Homo sapiens: one gene and its partners. The protein of the gene in region 1 purifies or fractionates together with the protein of each later gene. This does not show direct contact. Each region holds a gene or a part of one and is shown in the gene's direction. Other genes may lie near its edges.

Evidence for each region. The genes of interacting proteins can lie anywhere in the genome.
Region 2: the proteins of FMNL3 (region 1) and NAA11 purify together in Homo sapiens (affinity purification with mass spectrometry; one large-scale study listed by BioGRID and IntAct). This does not show direct contact.
Region 3: the proteins of FMNL3 (region 1) and SPECC1L purify together in Homo sapiens (affinity purification with mass spectrometry; one large-scale study listed by BioGRID and IntAct). This does not show direct contact.
Region 4: the proteins of FMNL3 (region 1) and DCAF6 purify together in Homo sapiens (affinity purification with mass spectrometry; one large-scale study listed by BioGRID and IntAct). This does not show direct contact.

The regions. Positions count from the first base shown.
Region 1 is NC_000012.12:49,648,406-49,651,905, reverse strand, and holds part of FMNL3 (formin-like protein 3), read left to right. Parts: intron 1-455; coding exon 456-524; intron 525-613; coding exon 614-738; intron 739-1,027; coding exon 1,028-1,230; intron 1,231-1,980; coding exon 1,981-2,215; intron 2,216-2,367; coding exon 2,368-2,436; intron 2,437-2,566; coding exon 2,567-2,647; intron 2,648-2,747; coding exon 2,748-2,877; intron 2,878-3,500. UniProt on the Homo sapiens protein: Plays a role in the regulation of cell morphology and cytoskeletal organization. Required in the control of cell shape and migration. Required for developmental angiogenesis.
Region 2 is NC_000004.12:79,316,188-79,319,687, reverse strand, and holds the end of NAA11 (N-alpha-acetyltransferase 11), read left to right. Parts: intron 1-1,896; 3' UTR 1,897-3,041; downstream 3,042-3,500.
Region 3 is NC_000022.11:24,326,331-24,329,830, forward strand, and holds part of SPECC1L (cytospin-A), read left to right. Parts: intron 1-2,515; coding exon 2,516-2,589; intron 2,590-3,500. UniProt on the Homo sapiens protein: Involved in cytokinesis and spindle organization. May play a role in actin cytoskeleton organization and microtubule stabilization and hence required for proper cell adhesion and migration.
Region 4 is NC_000001.11:168,006,183-168,009,682, forward strand, and holds part of DCAF6 (DDB1- and CUL4-associated factor 6), read left to right. Parts: intron 1-3,500. UniProt on the Homo sapiens protein: Ligand-dependent coactivator of nuclear receptors. Enhance transcriptional activity of the nuclear receptors NR3C1 and AR. May function as a substrate receptor for CUL4-DDB1 E3 ubiquitin-protein ligase complex.

The DNA.
Region 1 (3,500 bases):
CAGGGGCAGCCTCTTTGTGGGGACCAAAACTGTAGTCAGCAGTGTCTTCCTCAGGGAGAAGCTGGGAAAATGGCATTATCTGAGGACTTGGAGGGATATAAAATCAGGGTGAGGGAGGCCTGGAATCTGAGGGAAGCTCAAGTTATCAGCACAGGGATGCCCAAAGGCAGATGTGGACCTGTTTTAAGGATCATAAAGATGTTGCTCCCAATTCCTTTGAAGACAGCCAAGGAGAGGCTTAGACTGTAGCCATAGAAACTGGGTCAGAGACCAGCAACAACTGCCCTGTCAGAGTTAGATTTCTGGGAGCAGCTTGAGCAGAGTTCATGTAGGCTCCTTCTCTGAGAGTTTTTTTTTTTTTTAACTCTCAGAGAAGGTGGGACAGGCAGAGGGGAGGGAAGCCTATGAAGAGTCTCTTGACGCCTGGGTCACTGTGTCATTTCTTCTTCCCCCAGACAAGTGTCCCCCAGCCCCACCTCTCCCTGGTGCTGCACCCTCTGTGGTGTTGACAGTGGGCCTGTCAGGTGAGTATCCCCAGGGCTCTGGGCAGGGCTGGTGGGACCAGGGGTGTGTGTCCTTGGCCCCTGTGTCACTGATCCTCCTTCCAAATTAGCCATTCGAATTAAGAAACCTATCAAGACCAAGTTCCGGCTGCCTGTCTTCAACTGGACAGCACTGAAACCCAACCAGATCAGTGGCACTGTCTTCAGCGAACTTGATGATGAGAAGATCTTGGAGGTAACAGGGCCTGGGGTCCAGAGGGCTAAGGTTGAGGGCTAGGGACCTGGTTGCCTTTTGAGGAGATTCTGGTCTTAGAAAAGCCATCAGACAGGGTGAGGCCAGGCTTAGCTCCACCAACCCTTCATTCTTGAGTGTACGTATATTTCTAGTTGTGTCAACACTTTGTGTTTGTATTCAGGAAATATTCCAGAGTGACAGAGCTCTGGGCCAATGCTGGGTGGGCTGTCATGAGGTCCTCCACTAGTATGAGGCTACAGCGTTTTCCTTGCTCACCTATTCCTGCCAGGACCTGGATCTTGATAAGTTTGAAGAATTATTCAAGACAAAAGCGCAGGGCCCTGCCCTTGACCTCATCTGCTCCAAAAACAAGACAGCGCAAAAAGCTGCCAGCAAGGTGACTCTGTTGGAAGCCAATCGTGCCAAGAACCTGGCCATCACCCTACGCAAGGCTGGCCGCTCGGCTGAGGAGATCTGCAGGGCCATTCATACGTGAGGCTCCCACTGACCTGGCTCTGGTCCCTAGTCTGTTGGCAACCCAGTTCTCCACCCAGGAGCCTGGGTTTCCCTAGATTCCAGGTCATCTGACAGAACTCCCTCACATCCCCCTAGTCATCCACTGGCTTGGCTAGAATTTACTGCATCTGTGCTGGCAGTTCAGCCCAGACCTTCACCCAAGGAGCTCTCAGTCTATTGGGAACAGTGCAGTAACACTGAGTGATACCACCAGGATGGTAGAAGTATACAGGCAGCTTTGGGAGAATAGGGAGGTTCATGTAGCTGAGCTTGGTGATGAATGAGGGAAGCCTTCCCAGAGGAGGTAATGTCTCAACTGGGACCTGAAGAAAAGATATGAGTTAGTCCAGTTCAGGGCCTGGAGGGAGAAGCATAGTGCCTTGGGTACTAAAAATTGAATCTGGCTTTAGTGTAGGGAGAGGAGCAGGAGAAGGTAGAGAGTTGGGCAGAAGTCTTGCAGGCTGGACCTCGTAAGCCATGCTCAGGTGTTTGGACTTCACCCTAGGTACAGTGGGAGTACATCAAAGGGCTTATTAAACAGGAGCATGGAGTGTTCCCCCGGGATCATTGCTGGTGCTGTGACAGATGATGCAATGGGTCCTTTGCCTTTGGCTGTGTTCCGTGTACAGTCCCCTGTCCAGTTCTTCTAGGAGCTTGGAGAATAAAAGGGATGAGGGAAAACGTGGAGAGATGTGAGAACTGAGGTGGTCCCTCCCTCCTCCACAGGTTTGACTTGCAGACACTACCTGTGGACTTCGTGGAGTGCCTGATGCGCTTCCTGCCCACAGAGGCTGAGGTAAAGCTGCTGCGGCAATATGAGCGGGAGCGGCAGCCCCTGGAGGAGTTGGCAGCTGAGGACCGCTTCATGCTGCTCTTCAGCAAGGTGGAACGGTTGACCCAGCGAATGGCTGGCATGGCCTTCCTGGGGAACTTCCAGGATAACCTGCAGATGCTCACACCGGTACAGCCCCCACCCAACTCATGGCTCTGGACAGCTGTCCCTCCACCCTCCATCTGCTAGTCACCTCCCCTGCCCTTCCAGTCCTTCTGACCCCTCCCTGTCTTTACCCCATCTCAGCCTGGGGTTACTTCAGTGTTCATATTGTCCTACAGCAACTCAATGCCATCATTGCGGCGTCCGCTTCCGTCAAGTCTTCACAGAAGCTGAAGCAGATGTTGGAGGTGGGAAGAGGTTGTGAACAGGGGTGCTGGGGGTTTTCAGGTCCTAGGTGGGGGCCTGGGGCTATACAGAGAGGAAGAAGGAGCCTTCAGGACCTGAGCCTGACCTGCCTCCCACACATTCTTTGGACAGATCATACTTGCACTGGGGAACTACATGAACAGCAGCAAGCGGGGAGCTGTGTATGGCTTCAAGCTCCAGAGCCTGGATCTGGTAAGATGGTGAGGGCAGCGTGGGCCAGGAAGCCTGGGGGGCAGCAGTTGTGGAGCCAGAGTGCTTAGCTCTTGTGCACCGCCCTCACCCCCTCTCCTAGCTGCTGGATACCAAGTCCACTGACCGGAAGATGACACTGCTTCATTTCATCGCCTTGACAGTGAAGGAGAAATACCCAGACCTGGCTAACTTCTGGCATGAGCTGCACTTTGTTGAGAAGGCTGCAGCAGGTGAGGAGAGCCTGGCTGGGTGGGCCTGCCCTCACATCCAGCCCAGGACAATCCCAGGAAGCTATGAGGAGAGAGAACACTTGGGTCCATTTGTTTCTGGCTTTTGTTATCTTCTTTCTGACCACTTCAAAGCTTTCCGCTGGAGCCTTAAGCAGGGGCCACTCCAGAGGGAGCCTTCCTCCAGGCGCCAGGCCTGGCCCAGCCCAGCCCTTCCCAGCTAGGTACAGTGGGAGCAGGAACAAGAAGGGGAGCAGTCGCTCTTTACTCCCAACTCCCTCAAGCTGGCCCCAGAGGTCTTGTGTTTTGTGTATGATGTATGTGAAGTGCTTAGAAAAAAATCATAAAGCTCTCTATAGACATGAGGTAGCTGTTATTTCTGCCCCACCCATGAACCCTAGGGCAGGCCTGAGGCAGTTTCATTTTGGAGACCAGCAGTCTCTGTGGCTTGCCTGCCTTTGCTACTGTGTTCTTTGGGGTCACAAGCTCAGTTTCCATTCCATTCCCTCCCCCTGTGAGGGATCAGCTAGCTTGGTGTGTACTTCCTTATGTCCATACAGGTATGTGAACCTGAGTGAGCCCATGCTGAGGGGGAGGGCCAGAGTTTGATATAGCTCTGGGCTGGG
Region 2 (3,500 bases), on another chromosome or scaffold:
TAGATGCCATTTGTTGAATTATTTATAATCTCTAACAATGTCACCTTTCAATCAGTGTATGATGTACATGTAGGATGACTGAAATACCAACTTTGTCAGAAGTAACTGATAAAAGCAGAGGTTTTTCCTAAATTTTGTACTCTATGCTCTAGTATATGAAATCCAATGGGCTTTATGGTACAGGAGGTTAGATAGAATATTTAAAATTCTTTGAATGGGCAATGATTCAAAGAGCCACCATAAAAGCCTTTCTGAAAATATTCTACAATGCCATTTCTATAGATAAATATCTTTGGAAAATTATAGGATTTTTTTTTAAAGTAAAGCCATAGTATTCTGTTTCATGTTTATAACACCATATCGACAAATAGCATGTATTTGTCAGGCTTCCATAGCCCACCTTTAAGAAAACCTGATAATGTAAAACTTTGAACTTAATAAGCAAGACATTAAGGGCTTGGGGTGGGCACAGCGGCTCATGCCTGTAATCCCAGCACTTTAGGAGGCCAAGGCGGGAGCTTTGCATGAGGCCAGGAGTTCAAGACCAGCCTTGAAAACATAGCAAGACCTAGTCTCTACAAAAACTAAAAAACATTAGCCAGCGTGGTGGTGTATACTGGTGCGTGCTTGTAGTCCTAGCTACTCAGGAGGCTGAGGCTGGAGGATCACTTGTGCCCAGGAGTTTGAGGCTCTTGTGAGCCATGATTGTACCACTGTGCTCCAGTCTGGGTGACAGAGCAAGACCCTGTCTCAAAAAAAGGACTATAATACTAACATTTTAAAGGGAATCTTTATGAAAAATACCTATACTCTTAAACAACAAACTATCCTATAGCCTTTATTACAGTGTTATTTGACTTTTTCAGTTTAATTTCTTAAAATTTTCAAGCAGTATTTACTGAGATAACTAAAACAGCTATATAACTTCTTTTGCATGCCTGTTCATGCAAAAATGAAAAAGGCAATGATGATAGTCTTTCTGACCTGTTCCTCCATATCTTGTGTCTCTTTTGTTATAGCAAATATACTTTAAAAAATAAGATTTTACATAGTATTACCTCTTACAACTGGCTTCACTTGTTATTCTGGCAACAGAATTTTCTATAACAATGATTTTGTACAAAAATGCTTTTTAACTGCTCTGTGCATAATAGTCAGCCTCAATCTTATTTACTTCTGTGTGCATATGATAGATGAAAAGGTACTGAGTAAATATTTATTGAATGAATGAATGAATGGACCTCTCAAATTACCCATATAATAAATTTTTTTAAAGGAGAGAAAAATAATGTATGTATGATTCCTCTTACCTGATATAATTACCTACTTCCTCTTACCTGATGTAATTAGGGCACTTTAATTTGTGAATAAAGAAACATTATGGTTATTTTGGTTTCCTGTCCAGGCCTCAGAAAGAAAATATGACTTATAGAGTTGGACACATTGCATCTAACTTATCAAGAGCTAAAAAGGCCTTTCATTTCTTTAGAATTGGAATAAATTTTCTTTTGAGTGGAGTAGGATGAGATAGAATTTAAAGATGACAAGCAAAATGATCTCAGTTTCTTTAGTTTTAAAATAGGTTCTTTGGGGGTAAATCCCAGTTTTTTGGTGTTCTTCCTGTCCCTTTCTCCTGGCAGAAATGTCCTTTAGATGTCAGGAAAGGTTCATGTGTTCTTATGGCAGGGAGGGGAGAGAGCCCCAGATCTGTGTGTGGTCTTTGTGCAGTCATCTGAATTCTCACTGACTGCCATGGAGATATATCTAGTCCAAACTAGTTACTGGGTTTCTTTATCTGCTGTTCCAGTCTATCATTAACTAAACCAGTATTCTTTCAGAGCTGTCAGAGCTTATAGCTCTCCCTTTCTCATTTGTTTTCTTCTCATTTTTCAACAGCATTTCAGGTCCTCATGTCTCAACCACATCTACTCTGTGAACCCTGGCTTAGTCTGTCTGCTCTGCAGCATCTGCTGTGGGGATCATCTCACAGTGACCAGAATGGCTTCTCACTCTTAACTCTATAAACAACCACCTTTCACATATCCTGCTGGGATCATGAAGGAATACCTGGACACAAGAGCCACTGCACAACAGCCAAGGAACTTTGAGACCTGCCATTACAGAACCTTTCTTGGCCTACTCACACTACGCTGCCATTTTATTCTGTTTGTAGTAGTCCTCTGTTGGGTGTGGTTATCCTGCAAGTTTTTCTCCTTTTAGAATGATGAACAGGAAGCAGGGCAAACTCTTGAAGATTTCCAGCTTTCAGTTTTTGTTTTTGTTTTTTAACCATTATTTACCTGAGTTTTCATCCTTGAGGAGGTGAAGTAGTCAGGACCATGAAGTCAGACCTCATGCCCTCTTCCTCCTCTTTCCTGGAAGAAGTATTCAGTTTCCTTTTCCTTTCTCTGGTAACTCCTCCTTTATACTATTCCCCCCTCCCTTTTTTTTGAGGAGGAGGGCATCACCTTCCCAGTGGGAAAAGGTGTTAAGTTAGGAGCTTCTACTGTACAATCAGAACTTGGAGATTTTAAGAAAAGGACAAACGGTAATTAAATTGGAATCTCTAATGTGCTTGTTTGTGTTAGTTTTTTTGTGATTATGTCACTTGGCATTTATTGAGTACCTGCAGTGTTCACACACAATGCTGGAGCCTTCATTAGTTACATATTTAACCCTCTCAGCAACCCTGTAAAGTAGGTAGTATTATCCCTGTTTTACAGATGAGGAAACTGAAGCTCAGAGAAGTGAATTAAATATCCTGGATCTGAACCCAATTCTGTTTGAATTCAAAGCCAAAGTTCCTTCTACTTTTCTGTTCCTACTCTTTGCATTTTATTTATAAATGTGTTAAAATTTTAGCAAAAATGGAGAATCTGCTGTTTAAAAATGTGTTTGCTTAATACATGGCTACTGTATGTCAATTGTAAATATTTATATAACCTACAATTATAATCTATTTTTATTATTTTTCTCTAGTAAAAATAAGTGAAGACAAAGTACCTTGACCTCTGCAGTAAAAGTTACCAGATAAATCCAGAGTTATCATTACTTAATGTTGTTTTTATGTTCACTGAATGTGAATTACCAAAGTATATAACATTTTTCATGTTTAAACTTTTATGAAAACTGGTGTGTATGGATTTAAGTCAAAGCCTGGACTTTATCTGGTGACAAGAGGTAAGTCTTTTCTGTGTAATCGTAATTAGCCCTGCTAAGCAGTTCTTACAGATCTACCCTAGTGCACTCTAAGAATGTCTGCCTAATGGTAAATGATTGCCTGAGGCAGATATAAAAGTTTTTCCCTACATGAAAGGATTTGCCATTTCTTGTGCCAATACAGTATGATAAAATCTATCTTTCCATCTTTTCCTTTTTTCTTTTTAATATTCTATCTCAACGCTAAATTATTTTATTCTTTCCTCTCAACCATGTGTTTATCTCTTTATTTTTAAATATTACAGCTTTCTAACATCTGTCTCTAGGGCAGCATAATCTTA
Region 3 (3,500 bases), on another chromosome or scaffold:
TGTCCTTACTCCTCGTCTTATGTCCAAAACCCTGAATTTGTCTATGTGTGAGGTCGCAAGGAACCAAGTTCCCTTGCTGATTCCAGAGCCATCCTTGCCTCCAGAGATAAGGATCAGGGCATTAGACTCGTCTACTCAGCTTGGTGTCTGCTTTACCCAAACCAGATTAGATGGCCTGTTTGACTCTTCGTTTGCAGGTTGAGTCTGAAGTACCTTATGTGTGAGACAGGCTTTAAAGTTTAATCTTTTGCTTATGAAGTCATCTACCCTTGTTGTCTCAACACAAGACTAGCCTTTCTGTCTCTAAGAGGATGAAGATTATATCTTTCCTTTCCTTTACATCTTAAGCACTTAGAAAAAAGCCTGGTACAAAGTTGGTACATATGACACATTTATCAAATTAAAGAGTAAATTTTGAACCTTTTTATTTCACAGGACCTGACTTTGTTACACAGTTTTGGGGCAGTGAATGAGAGCAAGTTAACTACTGCCTACCAGAATTGCCCCTGCCGCCAACGTTTTATCCCATTTATTTCTGATCCAGCTTTAGAAAATACAGCATTATTATTTATTTGTAATAATTATTATTCCACATATAATTGTTGTAAATATTCTAGGCTCTATGTTGTTAAAGTGAATTCATGCCATTTAAAAATACCAGAACACTGGCTGGGTGCAGTGGCTCATGCTTGTAATCCTAGCACTTTGGGAGGCCGAGGCGGGTGGATCATGAGGTCAGGAGTTCAAGACCAGCCTGGCCAACATGGTGAAACCCCGTCTGTACTAAAAATACAAAAATTAGCTGGACGTGGTGGCAGGCGCCTATAATCCCATCTCCACAGGAGGCTGAGGCAGGAGAATCGCTTGAACCCAGGGGGCAGAGGTTGCAGTGAGCTGAAATCATGCCACTGCACTCCAGCCTGGGCAACAGATTGAGACTCCGTCTCAAAAAAAAAAAAAAAAAAAAAAAAACATCAGAACACACATATACCAACATCAAATGTAAAGCATAATGGCAAAAAAATTTTAGAAGAGAAGGTTCTAGTGGAACAGGGGTAAAGAAGATGATGAGCCATCTAAGAAAGAAAGAACATCAGCATACTCATACTTTAGGGTCCTAATTAAAAGCCAATAAAGTGTTAGCTAGAGGAAGAATTTTTTGATTACATGTGTCATTGCAAGCAGGTGTTCACTATGCCTGAATTCCTGCTACTAAGTATAAGGAATGGGAGAGAATGTTATTTACCCAGAAACACTAATGTCTATAGTTATGTTTTCCCTAATGATAAATCGTTAAGTTCTGTCAATAGGATACTTATTAAAAAAAAAACAAAAACCTAGGTAACGATTTCAGCATTACTTTTTATTACTGCTACCATTAGCTGGCACATTTATAAATTTATTCCATTTTAAAGATACCATATTCCAACTACTGAGTCTGTGAGGTCATCACATGGCTTCTTCTGCCTTTGAAGTGTTTTTAGTCTAGTGGTCGAGACAGATGTGTCGAGATGTGGTAATATTGGCGGCAACATGGTACAAGGCTGTGTAAGACACACTTGGAACACACACAACAGCCAGGGATCTACTGGGGTGGGGCTGTAGGTAAATCAGGGTAAAGGATTTGCCACCAGTTGTGTAAGTACCCTTTCTTGCCCTTAACCAAAAAGTGATTGGTTCCTGAGCTGTCAAAGTAACACAGCCGTAAGCGGTTTACTTAGTGGCAGCTATCAGCATAGCACCCTCCTAAGTCATTTATCTCTTATGCATGGATTTTAGAGTAGAACCTCCAAAGAGAAGGTGACTTCCCTTTACGTTTCTGGTTCCAGGGAGACTAGCCTGTGCTACACTTTCATCCTTGTATCCTCACTCTATCTAGAATGGTACTTTGCATCTTATTGGTGGTGCTCATTGAATGTTTTTAGAGTGAATGAAATTGTTCTAAGAAAATTCACATTATCGGATAAATAATTTGAGGAATTATTGATTTACTTTATAAATATATTCTTTATTTTTTAAAAAGATTTTTATAGAATTAATTGAAACAGCAGCTACCCTGAGTATTATATTTTTTACTAATTTTGATTTTACTAATTCACTTCTTTTCTGGAATTTATTCCAGTGTGTAAGGAAAGCTATGCTTATATAAATACTGCAGATTAATAATACTTGTGATTAAAAGTTCATATTGTAGTCACAGTCAATATTGTTTTGATTGGTTATGTACCAACAAAGTGAATTTCTAACGGTTTTACTTTTTGTTTCAAAATTAAGATACTGTGGAAGGAAGTGATTTAGAAATTGTGATTTTTAACTTGATATTTTCCAAAGAAAGTAATATTTGTTATTACTTGAATTTAACATTTTTTCTGTTAAAGTTTTGTATTAAAATTTTTTATAGTCTTTGGACAGGATAACTTTTTTCGAATGTCATATTTAAGTATCCCTTTTCTTTGTATTATTACTCTGAAGATTGTTGTGAGAATAGATATTTAAACTTTGGTGATCTTTTCAGATACAGTTAAAAAACTCCAGGACCAAAAGCACGACATGGAAAGAGAAATAAAGACACTCCACAGAAGACTTCGGGTAGGATAAATCTTCATGTATTGTCTTGTTAGAAAACGGTTTTCTGAAATCTGAGGTGTAGTCATTGACCATGTTATCATTCATCTTAAGTTTTGGATACAGTGATAATACTGGCCCCATTGGGCTTTGGGCAGAAAGCAAATGCTATCATTTCAAATTGGGATTGGTGCTAGATTTTGGGTAGAAGAATGTACTATAGGTTGAGTACCCCTAACCAGACATTCTGAAATCTAAAATATTCCAAAATTTGCAACTCTTGGAGTGATGGCATGATACTCAAAGGAAATGCTTATTGGAGCATTTTGGATTTCGGATTTTCAGATTTGGGATGCTTAGCTGTTAAGTATAGTGCAAATATTCCAAAATCCAAAGAATCTTAAATCTGAAATGCTTTTGGATAAGTGATACTCGACCTGTAGAAATTTATGGGTAGTAATTTTAGAAAGATAGATTTGGGGAAAAAGTGTAAGAAAGGTTATTAGCTTTTGGTTATAAGGTGCCCCAAACTAGTCTGTTTTCATACAAGTTTTCTTCATTTTGTGGCCATGATCCATCTTGCCAACAGCAATGCAGCCATGCTGCAGGGAGTAGGGAGAAAGCTACTCAGTCGTTTGGGTCATACCACAGTTGCTCAGGCTGCTTTCATGGTGTAAGAAAATTGCTTTAGGGGTGTAGGGGGCGTGGGGCTCAGGCATGCCCCAGCTATGGCTCTGATGGAGGTGAGTCCCAGGGAGACTTCCCCACCCGGCCACACCCGCATCCTCCATGACTGTGGGAAGCAACAGACCACGTAGTTCCTTACCGCCTCTTTGTATAATTTTGCCTGCCTATATTGAGTTTAGTGTTTTTCTTCTGGCTTCCTCTTCCTCTTCCTTTTCTTTTGATTTTTTTTTTTCCTGTTAGATTTTGAT
Region 4 (3,500 bases), on another chromosome or scaffold:
GCTATCTAATGCATTTTAATTACTGCATTTCAAATTGCTAAATTCCTTTCAATATTTAATGTAAGTATTAAATGTGACAATCATTTGAATTATTGAAGAAGAAAAAATATCTTTGGTGGTCATGTGATGATTATTGAAACATTATGCAGTACTTTTACTCATAAATTATTTATAGGAAGTAAGGAAATATTTTTAACTGGGAGATTATTGAGAGAATTTTGGTTGACTAAGCTATAGATAATTAGAATATTTCCATGTTATCAAGACATTATCACTATTGAGAAAAATGATTTGGTGTTAGATGTAACATCTGAAGGTTATGACTGTAGTTGTTCTGATAACAGCTTTTTCATTATTCTGGAGTTCAACGTTTCAGGAGTAAGGACTTAATTTGTTTCTGTTTTTGTTTTTTGTCCAATCTCTTTTGCATTTGCCATAGCCTAAGTCCAAATGTGTTTGTGAATATTGGGAATTGTCCATTGGGTGAATGTAGTAGATGGAAATGTCAGCTTAGGACCATGATTTCTATTATTTCCCTGCATAGAGATAGAGAAAATGATAAAGTATACTTCTGTCTATGCTTGCCTTGCTGTGGATACCTTTTTATGTAAATGTTTATCCCTTTACATGTCCTCCCTCATTTTTACTGATATCAAAGAAACGGACAATGGGAATATGAAAATTTGCTACGCTCCATCTCTGGTTGAACCTAATTGTCTGCCTTCTCTTAGTCTACAGTGGAATCACTGAATGATAATGAAGAAAGTTATGACCACAAATTTCAATGGGTGCTCAACACTGTGCATCAGAGCAGCCTCACACTGTTGCTCTCCAGCTGTACAAAATGACTATTTTACACTTTCATGTCTCTCAAACTTTAATACTTCCCTTCATCCCCGCCCCACTTCCAGATTCTAACCTTTCATTCACAATGAAAAGTACTCGTTTTCCTACTGTCAATAATTTCCCAGCTTTCCAACATCTGTACTCACATTGTGATAGAAGCAGAAAGCTCCTATCAAAAGCTAGTCAATGTAGTTGCTATCCCTTTCCAGCTTCTCAAAGATTTCGCCCCTTCTCTTGCATTATCATTGCCTTTTTTTGCCAAATTGTTTCTTTTGGCCTTAACATGCTCTTATTATCTCCTTTCTTTAAAAATTTTCTCTTAATTATCTCACATTCCCCTTCAGCTATTGCCTTATTTCTCTGCTGCTTTCGTAATGAGAATCCTCAGAAGAGTTGTTGATAGATGCTCTCTCCATTTTCTTGCCATCCTTCATTTATTTATTAACCAACCCCCATCTGCTTTTCAACCCCCTTTTCCTCTGAAACTTTTAATCAAAGTCACTAGTGACATTCACCAGTTTAAAGGATATTTCTCTGTTAGTACCTTACTAGATTTTTCGACCCGGTTGCATTTAACATAGGCTGTCACTCCTTCTTGAAACACTTTCCTTTCTTGGTATCTATGATATCATATTTGCCTATTTACTCTTATTAATTCTGGTGGGTTTTCAGTAACTGTTGTTCGTGTTTCTTGTTCTATCTCCTTCTGAATATTATAATCAAACCCCTTAGTTTGGGCTCTCTTCTCTTCTCTTTACATACACTCTTTCTCTGGGTGATTGTGTCAGTTCCTCATAGCTTTTAATATCTCCTGTAAATTCATGACTCACAAATATATATATCAGCAATCTGATCTTCTACCCTGAATTCCAGACCCTTATGCCTGATGTCTGACTGCTATTTTGACAGTATGTTTTTGTTATTGTTGTACATCTTTTTTTTTTTTTTTTTTTTTTTTTTTAAAGACAGTCTCACTCTGTCACCCAGGCTGGAGTGCAGTGCACAATCTCAGGTCACTGCAGCCTCCCCCTCCTGGGTTCAAGCAATTCTCCTGCCTCAGCCTCCCAAGTAGCTGGGATTACAGGTTCCTGCCACCACACCCAGCAAATTTTTGTATTTTTAGTAGAGATGGGGTTCCCCATGTTGGTCAGGCTGGTCTTGAACTCCTAACCTCAAGCAGTCCATCCGCCTCGGCCTCCCAAAATGCTGGGATTACAGGCATGAGCCACTGCACCCGGCCTATTGTTGTACGTCATAAATCTACATGTTCAAACTAAAACTTAATGCAGCCTCCTACCCTTCCTGTTCCGTAATTGGCTCCTTCTTGGTCCATTTGCTTATTTGAATAACCTGTGAGTTTTTCTTGATTCCTTCCTTTTCCTCAAGTCCCATGCCAGCTCATCAGCAAGTTCTTTTGTTCCTGTATCTAAACTATAACCTGGGTCTTTTCATCTCACCATCATTTCTTGTCTCCTAATTAATCTGCCTGTACCTACTGTTGTTCCATTATAATGTATTCTCCATGCAGGAGCCAGAATGAGTATTTTAACATGTTAAATCAGATTATATAACTTTGCTGTTTAAATCCCTTCAGAAGTTCCTAATTGCATTTGGAAATACAACTACAAAAGAAAAAAAAATCAAACTCCTCACTGTGGACGTATAAGAATTTATATGGCCTGCCCTTCCCTGTCTCTCTAGCCTCATCTCATTCAATTTTCTCAGTACTTGATGATTGTTACACTCTAGATGTACTACTGATTTCTTTCGGTTATCAGAGAATTTCCGTGCCAAATTCTGCCCTGCCCTGCCCTGCCCTCCCCCGCCCCACCCCGCCTCCACCCTGCCCCCACCCCCTCCCCTCCCCCCTCCCTCCCTCCCTTCCTCCCACTTGCTTGCTTTCTCTCTCTCTCTTTCTCTCTCTCTTTTCTTTCTTTTCTTCCTTCTTTTCTTTTCTCCTTCCTTCCTTTCTTTCTTTTTCTTCTTTTTAGACAGAGTCTTGCACTGTTGCCCAGGCTGGAGTGCAGTGGCGTGATCTCGGCTCACTGCAAGCTCTGCCTCCTGGGTTCACGCCATTCTCCTGCCTCAGCCTCCCAAGTAGCTGGGACTACAGGCGCCTGCCACCATGCCCGGCTAATTTTTTATACTTTTAGTAGAGACAGGGTTTCACCGTGTTGGCCACGATGGTCTCAATCTCCTGACCTTGTGATCCGCCCTCCTCGGCCTCCCAAAGTGCTGGGATTACAGGCGTGAGCCACTGTGCCCTGCCATTTTCTTTTCTTTCTCTTCTCTTCTCTTCTTCTTTCCTTCCTTCCTCCCTTCCTTCCTTCCTTCCTTCCTTCCTTCCTTCCTTCCTTCCTTTCTTTCTTTCTTTCTCTCTCTCTCTTTTGTTTCTTTCTGTCTCTCTCTCTTTCTTTCTTTCTGTCTCTCTCTCTTCCTTCCTCCCTCCCTCCCTTCCTTCACTTCTTCCCTCCCTTCCTTCCTTCCTTCTTTCCTCCATCCCTTCTTTCCTTCTCCTCTTTCTCCTTTTTCTCCTTTCCCATCTTTCTCTCTTTCCTGTCTTTTCTTTTCTTTCCCTCTTTCCTTCTTACACTTTGTTCTTAGTGTTATTCTCTGTATGCTTGGGAAGCCCTTGTCCTGGCTTATCACTTGGC